3 linked regions of the Homo sapiens genome follow. The protein of the gene in region 3 purifies or fractionates together with the protein of the main gene of each other region. This does not show direct contact. Each region holds a gene or a part of one and is shown on either strand. Other genes may lie near its edges.

What was found.
Region 1: the proteins of ZNF488 (region 3) and LUM purify together in Homo sapiens (affinity purification with mass spectrometry; one large-scale study listed by BioGRID and IntAct). This does not show direct contact.
Region 2: the proteins of ZNF488 (region 3) and USO1 purify together in Homo sapiens (affinity purification with mass spectrometry; 2 studies listed by BioGRID and IntAct, with this or other methods). This does not show direct contact.

What each region holds. Positions count from the first base shown.
Region 1 is NC_000012.12:91,105,173-91,108,509, reverse strand, and holds part of LUM (lumican precursor), read left to right. Parts: coding exon 1-392; intron 393-3,337.
Region 2 is NC_000004.12:75,727,484-75,731,137, reverse strand, and holds part of USO1 (general vesicular transport factor p115), read right to left. Parts: intron 1-3,654. UniProt on the Homo sapiens protein: General vesicular transport factor required for intercisternal transport in the Golgi stack; it is required for transcytotic fusion and/or subsequent binding of the vesicles to the target membrane.
Region 3 is NC_000010.11:47,374,182-47,377,835, forward strand, and holds part of ZNF488 (zinc finger protein 488), read right to left. Parts: intron 359-3,654; exon of another isoform or gene 280-358; intron 1-279. UniProt on the Homo sapiens protein: Transcriptional repressor. Plays a role in oligodendrocyte differentiation, together with OLIG2. Mediates Notch signaling-activated formation of oligodendrocyte precursors.

The sequences.
Region 1 (3,337 bases), on a different chromosome or scaffold from region 3:
ATTGGTAAACCTGACCTTCATCCATCTCCAGCACAATCGGCTGAAAGAGGATGCTGTTTCAGCTGCTTTTAAAGGTCTTAAATCACTCGAATACCTTGACTTGAGCTTCAATCAGATAGCCAGACTGCCTTCTGGTCTCCCTGTCTCTCTTCTAACTCTCTACTTAGACAACAATAAGATCAGCAACATCCCTGATGAGTATTTCAAGCGTTTTAATGCATTGCAGTATCTGCGTTTATCTCACAACGAACTGGCTGATAGTGGAATACCTGGAAATTCTTTCAATGTGTCATCCCTGGTTGAGCTGGATCTGTCCTATAACAAGCTTAAAAACATACCAACTGTCAATGAAAACCTTGAAAACTATTACCTGGAGGTCAATCAACTTGAGAGTAAGTAAAAAGCTGTTCCTGTGTTTGATGTGTGCTCAAGTGTTTAAATACCTGGGCTGCACAACACAGATATTGCATCTGGCTCCATTAAAAAAACAAAATGTCGCCCGGGCGCTGTGGCTCATTCCTGTAAATCCAGCATTTTGGGAGGCCGAAGTGGGCGGATCACCAGGTCAGGAGTTGAGACCAGCCTGGCCAACATGATGAAACCCCATCTCTACTAAAAATACAAAAATTAGCCAGGCGTGGTGTCGCACTTCTGTAATCCCAGCTACTCAGGAGGCTGAGCCAGGAGAATTGCTTGAACCTGGGAGATAGAGGTTGCAGTGAGCCGAGATCGTGCCACTGTACTCAAGCCTGGGCAAGACAGCCAGATTCTGTCTTGGAAAAAAAAAAAATGTCCACAAAATATCCCTCTACTTCAAACAAAGAATAATTCTAGCTCAATCATATATCCAATATCCAGCCTTTCTTTGGTGTATCCAGATAAGGAACAATTAAGGTCACAGAATTTAATATGTAAGTCTTCAAACTAAAAATTCCGGGCCAACTCATCCTGCTGTGTTACCTCCTCATATATATCTCTTATTATTTTCTCCTTTATGGCTTAGATTTGTGTCCTACATTTATTTTTTGACAAGATCTAGATGAGGGAGGAAGAAATGAGTTCAAAAGTGGCACAGTTGGCAAACTCCATAGCCACAAAGAAGCCCATATTGTCCCTCCCTCCCTCCCTCTCTCTCTCTTTTTCTTTCTTCCTTCCTTTCTTTCCCTTTCTTTCTTTCTTTCTTTCTTTCTTTCTTTCTTTCTTTCTTTCTTTCTTTCTTTCTCTTTCTTTCTTTCTTTCTTTCTTTCTTTCTTTCTTTCTTTCTTTCTTTCCTTTCTTTCTTTCTTCTTTCTCTCTTTCTTTCTTTCTTTTTCTTTCCTTCTTTCTTTCTTTCGTTTTCTTTCTTTCTTTCTTTCTTTTTTTTTTTGACAGGGTCTCACTCTGTCGCCCAGACTGGAGTGAGGTGGTGCAATCTCGGCTCATTGCAACCTCCACCCCCCAGGCTCAGGCGATTCTCCCACCTCAGGCCACCACCACCACCAGGCTAATTTTTATGTTTTTAGTAGAGATGGGGTTTCACCATGTTAACCAGGCTGTTCTTAAAATCCTGACCTCAACTGATCCATCTGCCTTGGCCTCCCAAAGTACTGGGATTACAGGCGTGAGCCACTGTGCCTGGCCCCATATAGTCTCATGGTCTTCCCTGACATCAACTACTTGGGACTCACCATGTTACTCTGCTGTCATGATCATCATCTGCCTCTGTTATCTCTGTTATGGTGTGTGGCCATCACAGTGCTCTGGAGGACTGTGAAGAAGATTAAAGAGAAAAAGAAATATGATGGGAGATTCTAACATCTTTTTTTTTTTTTTTTTTTTTAGAAGAAAAATAGTGTTACAGAGCTTTTTTTTTCTTGGGTACAATCCTGCCCCTCATTTGATATTTCCACACTTTCTCTTTCTCCTCTCTTTATTTTTCATTTATCTTCTGGATGAAGTTTGATCTGATGCATTTGGACTGCTTATGCACTTATGTGGTCTTCAGGGACATTCTTCAACTTAAGCAGTATAGATTCCAATGGGAAATTGAAATCCACCATTTCCTACCAGGATAACTCTGCCATTAATCTTTGGCAGAGCTTGGTAGAAGAGAAAAACCATGATTCACAGATAAGGCTTTCTAAATGAAAAAATCAAGCAGGAAACATTGATTCACATATAAAGTAATAATGTCTGCAAAATAATCTATTGAATTTGAACATCTCTACATGATGAAAATTGGTTTTCTGGCCATGCTGAATAAAGGTATTGCTGTCAGAAAATATTACAATATATTTTATGCATATGATGTTTGTTAATTCTGCCAGTTTCATATAACCTCTAGTAGGGTTAAACGTTTTCATAAAGAAGACCATACTCGCCAACTCTGAAGCTCCACATGTTCTTTGTTGTTTCTGAAAAGCAGCCAAGGTAAGGGTTGGTGCTGTTTGACTGTCACACAATACACAGTCAGGCTAACACAGCTAAACCCCTCTTGTTGTTTCCAGTGGAAAATTCACTATGTGGCCATATGTGATTCCTCATTTTAAACATATGTGGTTAGGAGGAAGGATACTCTCTGACAGACCAAAATGCTAAAGGAATTTACGATGCTTAAGGGATGACGGAGTACATTAGATTTGGTGGGTAGAGATTATTCGTAAGAGCAGGGCTACTTCTTTCTCTGAAACAAAGAAGGATACAGAAGTAGGCACATTTGAAGGTATACATTGCATGAGTAAAGGATGGAAGAGAGGTCTATGGGAGAAAGGCCAACGGCCTGTCAGTGCCAAGCTGAGATAGAAACCACAGTGCCCAGTACATAGTGGTCATTTGAAAAGGTAACATAATAGTTTCCTTTCTTTCTTCCTTATCTTTGTACATTTAGTCAGGTATTCTCCTTGTCTTTTTATGTATCACCTCAGTTTAGGTTATTTTGCCAGATAATAATCAACTATATCAACATTTCACATTCACTTAATACAGAAAGTTCCCCTCAATGTTTTTTTCTAATATTAGGGAATATATAGCCAAAACAAACTGTTTTCTATTTCAAACTTGCAACTCTAAGCATTAGCCCAATCAGAGATCTTCCTAGTGTAGAGTAATTTAGAAAGACAGCAAAATCAAAAGGATATTAGTCATTATTTAGGACATACTATGTACTAGTATTGTGTGAAGTGCTCTACACAACTTAATTTAATCTTCATGCAACACGGTAAGATAGATGTGTTATTTCTAACAAGATCAGATAAGTGTTCCAGTGTTGCCCACCTGGGTAAGTGGCAGAGGTAGAATTCCAAGATGGGACTATGCCCATCTTCTTTCCATTTTTCCTCACTTTCTCAAATGTTGGTAC
Region 2 (3,654 bases), on a different chromosome or scaffold from region 3:
TTGTAGACAAATCCAATGAATCCATTTCCATTATAGTTACCTTAAGTCAGCCAAGTAATATACTGCTTCATTTATTCTCCATGCTCTTTCCCATAAATGAACTATGCTTTTCAAAAGGACATCGTTTTAAGCAAGGGGTCATAATGAAACATGTCTACCAAATAACCTATCACAAATGCTAGCATCTCAAAATCTAACACCACAAAAGTTTTTCTGTAATCCCAGCACTTTGGGAAGCTGACAGGAGGATTGTTTGAGGCCAGGAGTTCAAGACCAGCCTGGGCAACATATTGTGAGCCTGTCTCTTTAAAAAAAAAAAAAAGTTTTCAAATTAATGGTGAATAACTTTTGACACAAAAAATGTTTATGGCACTTCTGCTTGAGGTATAAAAATAATAAGCATAACTTTACTATACCTACAACAGACAAAAAGCAGAGTACAAAGCAGTAATATTAATAATAAAAGGTAAATACATAAAAAGAAAGAGGAACAGTATTTGGTATCAACAAATGTATATAAGGAATTCTAATATTCTTTCCTAATCAGATTCAAGAGTAATGTTTTTAATGAAATAAAGGAAAATAAAGAAAAAGGCATCAGAATTATATATCCTCTTGGACAATTTTTCCCTAAGTATGCTTCTCAAAATAATAGATAACAAAGTTCCCTAGAGGAAAAAAAAAGGTCTGGTCAGATAAATTTGGCAAACAGCTTACTTTTTATCTACATTTTAAAAATATCTGAAACTATAACACAGTGCCTGCTTACAAAACCTTGCATAAATACTAGAGGTTTTTTCTTTGTTAGTGGTCGTTGCACACACTTCTTTGCTGACAAAATTTTTTTCATGGACATCTATTCAAATTTTTTGAAGCATACCTTGGTAATGCTACGGCATGTATAATTTAAATGATTCTAACTTTTAAATGAACCCTATATAATCTACAAAATTAACCTTCCAAAAAGCCATGTAGTATTCAATAGGCCCTACTTAAAAAGAGTGCTTCGATATAGAAATGACCAAAACACAAATCATTATTACAGTTCTCTCCGACATTGTTATTGCAAAACAGGCCAAGAGAGAAAACACATTCCAGTTATGACATTGACCTGGTTATTAATGTAGAATACATCAACCCAAATAGGAATTTCAGACTACACATTTATAGTAACATGGTATAAAATGTGCTTGACTAAACGAAAACTATGTCTAAATTTAAGTCCACACTCTTTAATAACAATTTTTATTAAAAGAAAATATGGCTGTGTTTATATTGTTAGCCCTTCTGCTTTCTGAGACAGCTGATGAAAGTTTGATCTGGAAAGAGACCCCATAACAATGTTCTAATTCTGTATGCTTTTTCTGGACATTAGCAACTTTCATGTCTCGGGGTCCAACTTGAGAACAGAAAATGCCTCTATGATTCATCATCAAATGTAGTTAACACTTGCTTGGAATTTTCAAGAAACTAGCTTTAAAAAAGGTACAAGTTGGGGGCTGGGCGCAGTGGCTCACGCCTATAATCCTAGCACTTTGAGAGGCCGAGGCGGGCAGACTGCCTGAGCTCAGGAGTTCAAGACCAGCCTGGGCATCACAGTGCAACCCTGTCTCTACTAAAATACAAAAAAATTAGCCTGGCGTGGTGGCGTGCACCTGTAGTCCCAGCTGCTCGGGAGACTGAGCCAGGAGAACTGCTTGAACCCAGGAGGCGGAGGCTGCAGTGAGCCGAGATTACGTCACTGCACTCCAGCCTGGGCGACAGAGCGAGACTTCGTACCCCACCCCCCTACCCAAAAAAAAGGTGCTAGATAGAAGGCAGATATAACACTAAGCACACATAAGCTTACATTCAAAAGCATGAAGTCCCTGGTGGTCTAGTGGTTAGGGAAAAAGAGAAAACTAAAAAACAAAAGCATGAGTAGGATTTGTACTATAATAATATGCACCCAGCAAACTGTGTCAAGGCTAAAGAGGCTTCAATCACCAGAAATCAGTGTCAAGTAAAAAAGAGAAATGAAATGTAAAAGTACCCGACTCTGGGGCCAGGTGCCGTGGCTCACACCTGTAATTCCAGCACTTTGGGAGGCCAAGGCAGGCGGATCACGAAGTCAGGAGATCGAGACCATCCTGGTTAACACGGTGAAACCCCATCTCCACTAAAAATACAAAAATTAGCCGGTGTGGTGGCAGACACCTGTAGTCCCAGCTACTTGGGAGGCTGAGGCAGAAGAATGGCGTGAACCCGGGAGGGGGAGCTTGCAGTGAGCCAAGATTGCGCCACTGCACTCCAGCCTGGGCCACAGAGCGAGACTCTGTCTCAAAACAAAACAAAACAAAAACAAAAACAAAAGTACATGACTCTAAAACAGAAAAAGTTTAATGTGGATGAAATTCTGAATTTAAAATATCCAGTACTTTATAGAATTGACTATCCTATGATAAAATATTTACTACTTGACAGGTTCTCAAGAACATCTTTCTTTTTGAGACAGTCTCGCTCTCTCGCCCAGGCTGGAATGCAGTGGCACAATCTTAACCACTCAGTGGTTGCTCACTGCCAACCACCGCCTCGATTCTCCTGCCTCAGCCTCCTGAGTAGCTGAGATTATAGGCATGTGCCACCATGCCCAGCTAATTTTTGTATTTTTAGTAGAGACAGGGTTTCACCATAAAAATGTGCTTGACTCCAGAAAGGAGTTTGGCCAGGCTGGTCTCAAACTCCTGACCTCAAGTGCTCCATCTGCCTTGGCCTCCCAAAGTGCTGGGATTATAGGCGTGAGCCCCCGGCCTGAAGAACATCTTAATATCAGTCCAAAGTTACTCTTAACTAAGAGTATGAAAAGCTAGATACTATACAATCAATCACATAACTCTCACACATTTAAAAGATACTTAAATTCAATAAGAAAAAAAAAAACAAGAAAGCAGTCAAAGCATTTAGTAAATATGAAAAAATCCCTTAAGTAAAAAGCTTGACACAATGAACTTCATTTGAGAACTTCAGTTTCTAGTCTTTAAAAAGTGTTTTAGTACCTAGTAACGTAAGTTGCTATAATTACAGATCTGTGATTTCTTTCAAATAAAACTATAATTAATTCATTTCACAAGTATTTACTGGGCATCTACTACTGTGGAAAAACAAAGATTAAAATACATTATGAACCCTGCCCTAAAGACACTTTAAGAGTCTAGAAGGAATAAGATATATGCACACTGTAGTTAAAATGTAAAGGTAGCTCAGAAAGGAAAAAGCATCTGAAACGTGCTGGGGGAAAGTACAGATTAGGGGAGGCGCTGATGATGAATTTAAATAACAGGTCTAATTCAGACAAAGAAAAGAGCCCTTCCATTGGAAAAAAGATGTTAGAAAAAGCAAGAAAGATGGAAAGCCACCATGAAAAAAATTTAATTTTGCAGAAATGGAAAAAACTACAAAATAATAAATGATAATATAGAAGCTAGGGGTTCCAAGCTCTGGTAACTCAAATATCCTGGCCAGACTAAATCATCAATTAAAACATCTAAAATTGTATATACACTCCACTGATGCTCTATAAATACTTCTAAATTAGTAATCCATGACCCCTTTTACCTGTTGTACTTCCTGGTGGAACGAAATAGTGAAACAAATTTTATTCATACTGTACCTCAG
Region 3 (3,654 bases):
GTCCTAAATACTATAAGGCGCCGAGTGACATCTTTATGTGGCATTATGATGCATCTTTTGTGATCAATCTGGTTTTTTAGACATTATTTTGACAAGCTAAAGGGCAAAAAATGCAGATCTAATAATCAGCTGTGACACAGCATGATACTTCTGTCAGCCATAGCCATACCCAGACTAAGTTGCTCTTCTAATGTTCATGAATATTCAAATACAAACAGGACTGTGGACTCCTTCTAAAAGAGGTGGATTAATAGGTCCCAGGAGCAGATCCCTGGTTACCTTGACACTCCACAGTGATTTCTCACATCCCTTAGGTTCCAGCAATCAGGGCTTCCCACCTGCAGACAGCAGCCTCTACCTGGGTAGTTTAAACAGAAAGGAACTTATTAAAGGCTATCATGCAGCTCATTAAATCCCTGTGAGAGCCAGAGACCAAGCTTGGGAGCTCTCCAAGGGTCAGGGTAGCCAGAAAAAAAAGCCTAACCATGCCCTGGCACTGTCTAGTAGAAACTGCTGGTACCAGCACCAATCACAAGGGACCAAACTCCTACAAAGTCCACCACAGCCACCCCACAAGTCCAGATGTCCCTGCCACCGTGAGTGACAGATATCACCTGCATGCCAAAGACTTCAGCTCATGGGACTCGACTGCACATCCGGGGCTGGGTGATGTATCTGGCTGCTTGTGAGGATCTGTGTCAAAGGCCTGCACCCTGGCTGCAAAAGAGTCTGGGAAACATGGATTTAGCTTCCCAACCTCTGCAGTGCAGGAAAGCCAAGTGAGATGGGGTTAGAAACAGTTGTTGACTGAACCAATGACAGTATCTGTTACTGTGGCACTTAATAAAGCTCACCCCCTGACGAAACTGAGTGGACACAGCCACGCAATTCTGTCTGAAGGTTTTCGTCTCTGCCTGCAACTTGATTTTCTTGGTATGCAGCCAGTGGTGTGCTGGAGCCAGCTCACAGTGGCTTGTGAGATGATCAGGAATGTTTCAAGTTAGCTGTTTTAACTCAGACATTATTCAAAACTAAACTATACAAACTTACAGTCAAAGAAGTTATATTAAAAACACAGGCAATACATACTCAGAACCCATCATTTCCTAGTCATTCTACTACACATTCCCATTGCCTACGCTGTGGACGCTGCTCCACCTGCCGGTGCGGGGGCTTGCCACGGTCCACTCCTCCTCATGCCACATCCAGGGATATCGTGAGTGGCCAGAAATCAGGGAATCAGCCAGAATGGGATTATTTATGGAAATGCTATAAATCAAGGCTTGATTTCTTGTTTTGTTCATTGTCTGGACTTAAGAAAGTAATGGAAAAAAATTGTCAATAATGCAGATTAAACTGAAATTTTTGTCTTGTCGATAGCTGTTATATTGTGAATAGCTCACAAAAAGCTGAGGGACTATTCTTCTAGTATTCCGAAACTATTATGTGATTTAGGAAAGAAGTTATTTAGATCACTGACAAACAAGTGAAGTTCTGACATATGTTCATTGTTCCACTTTCATCTTACACTTTATTGTAAATGAAAATATCACCCAAAATCCATGTTGCAGCTACATGCTGAGAACCAGCTGTTAAACACTTACCACACACCACAGCATGTACCCCATATACTTTCTAATTCTGGGCACCAGAATAATCAGAGAGACCCTCCTGGAAGAGGCAGGAGGCCTCCAAAGGGCAGACAGATACAAAGAAAAGAGAGGGCAGAAAGAACGGCACACGCGAATGCCAGGCAGTGACAAGAGTGGGTTAGACGTAAATCGAGAGTGTTTGTGAGGACTGTTTATGGGTAAGATCACATGGTCTAGCCACAGGGACCCACACCATATCTCTTAGGGGAGACAGTCGTTCTTTTATTCTGTGATAACAGGATGAATAGCATGGAAGTATTGCTCCACATGCAATGAGAGAGAAAAACACCTCTTCGTAACAGGACCTGGGATGGAGACAAGCCCACTTGAGTGGTTTGGGAGAAATGCTTCAAGATCAGGGATGGACCATGGACTGCCTGGGGTGCCTGAGGAATGTCCCATTGAGGAGGTGATATTATCTCTGGGTGTTGATGGATGAATACGAGTTCACCAATCAGGGATGGTAAGATGGCACAGGCAAAGTCCTAGTGGAAAAGAAGGGCTGGGTATATTTCAATCGTGAGGAAAAGACTGAGGGGCAGGAATTCAGCGAGACAGAGAGGATTCCTGTAAACGACCACTTTTCATTCACACTAAGCCAGGTCAGACCCAATTGTGAAATTCAACCCTGCCGAGGGAGGTATGGGAGAATAAGGAGAGAGAGTTAGAGTGGGAGCCAGGAATTTGCCCAGCTCTTTGCTCTGAAGAGCTCTGGGCTCCTTGACATCCATTTGCACTCATATCCTCCAAGAAGGGTGTACTCCCACCGTGCAAAGTCAGAGAACTCCCCACCCCATCCTCCTTCTCCCCCAGCCCTAGCACAAATGGAGGGGCTGAGGCAGTCACACTATGCCCAGCCTTCCAGACCACCAGATCCAGCAGAATGGGGGCTCAAGCCTGAGGGTCCTCACTGGTTCCCGTGCAGACACCTACAGAGGAGCCTGTGGCCAAACTCACACTCAGAGACATGAAATTATAGATGTCCTCCAGTGGAAATTATAACCCAGTGCTATTTCCCTCCAGAGCTTGCAGCTCTACCCTTGTGTGCAGACTTGAGGTGACCCTCAAGAAGCAGCCCAGAAAGCAAAACAACTGGGCTGCATCTGCGAGCTGCTCACACCAAAACACCGTCAGGGCTGCCATGCTGACTCGGGTTGCAGAGACCACCTTCAGCAGCCTGCCTGGCCATAGTCAGTGTTGCCGCTATCACCTACTGGACTGTTGGTCCCTGGGGAGAGACAGCCTGTGTTTGATCTATCTCTGCAACCCCCGCAGGGCATCTCAGGAAGAGTGGGGTGGACTGCAGGGTCCCCCTTTGCCCCAGGTTTTTAAACCAGCTGACAGGAAAGGAGGAATACGCGATCTCTACGACAAGAGCAGTCAGATGGCTTGGTTCTGTTTTATGCTACTCAGCATCCTTCCTAACCAAACCCAGTTTCAGTTTGAGAAGCTGCTTATGTGTGCCTGGTACTGGAACTCTCTGAATAGCTCAATCCCGGTCTTTTTTGAGCTTATTTCTCCAGTTCTTCCTCTGACACTGTGATCTACCTGCCACCATAACCTTCTAATTAATTCCTTCTTCACAAAGTTGGCCAGAGTCCATCGCTGTGGTTTGCATCCAAAGAATCCTGATTGCTATGGATGTGACAACTCACCTCAGCTCAGAGCACTATACCTCCAGGACTCTCTCACAGAACAATAACAATCAAACACAGACACTCACACACACACACAGCTGCCACCCAGAGATGCCGGCAATAACAATCTCACACACACACACACACACACACACACACACACACACATGGCTGCCACCCAGAGGAGCCAGCAATAACAATCACACACACACACACACACACACACACACACACACACACACACACACGGCTGCCACCCGGAGGCGCCGGCTCAGCCCTGCCCCTGCACCTGTCAGCATCTAGCAGCAGCTGCCACATTCACAGAGCACACAGGGCTTCTGCCTGCCAGCTCTGACTTAATTCGA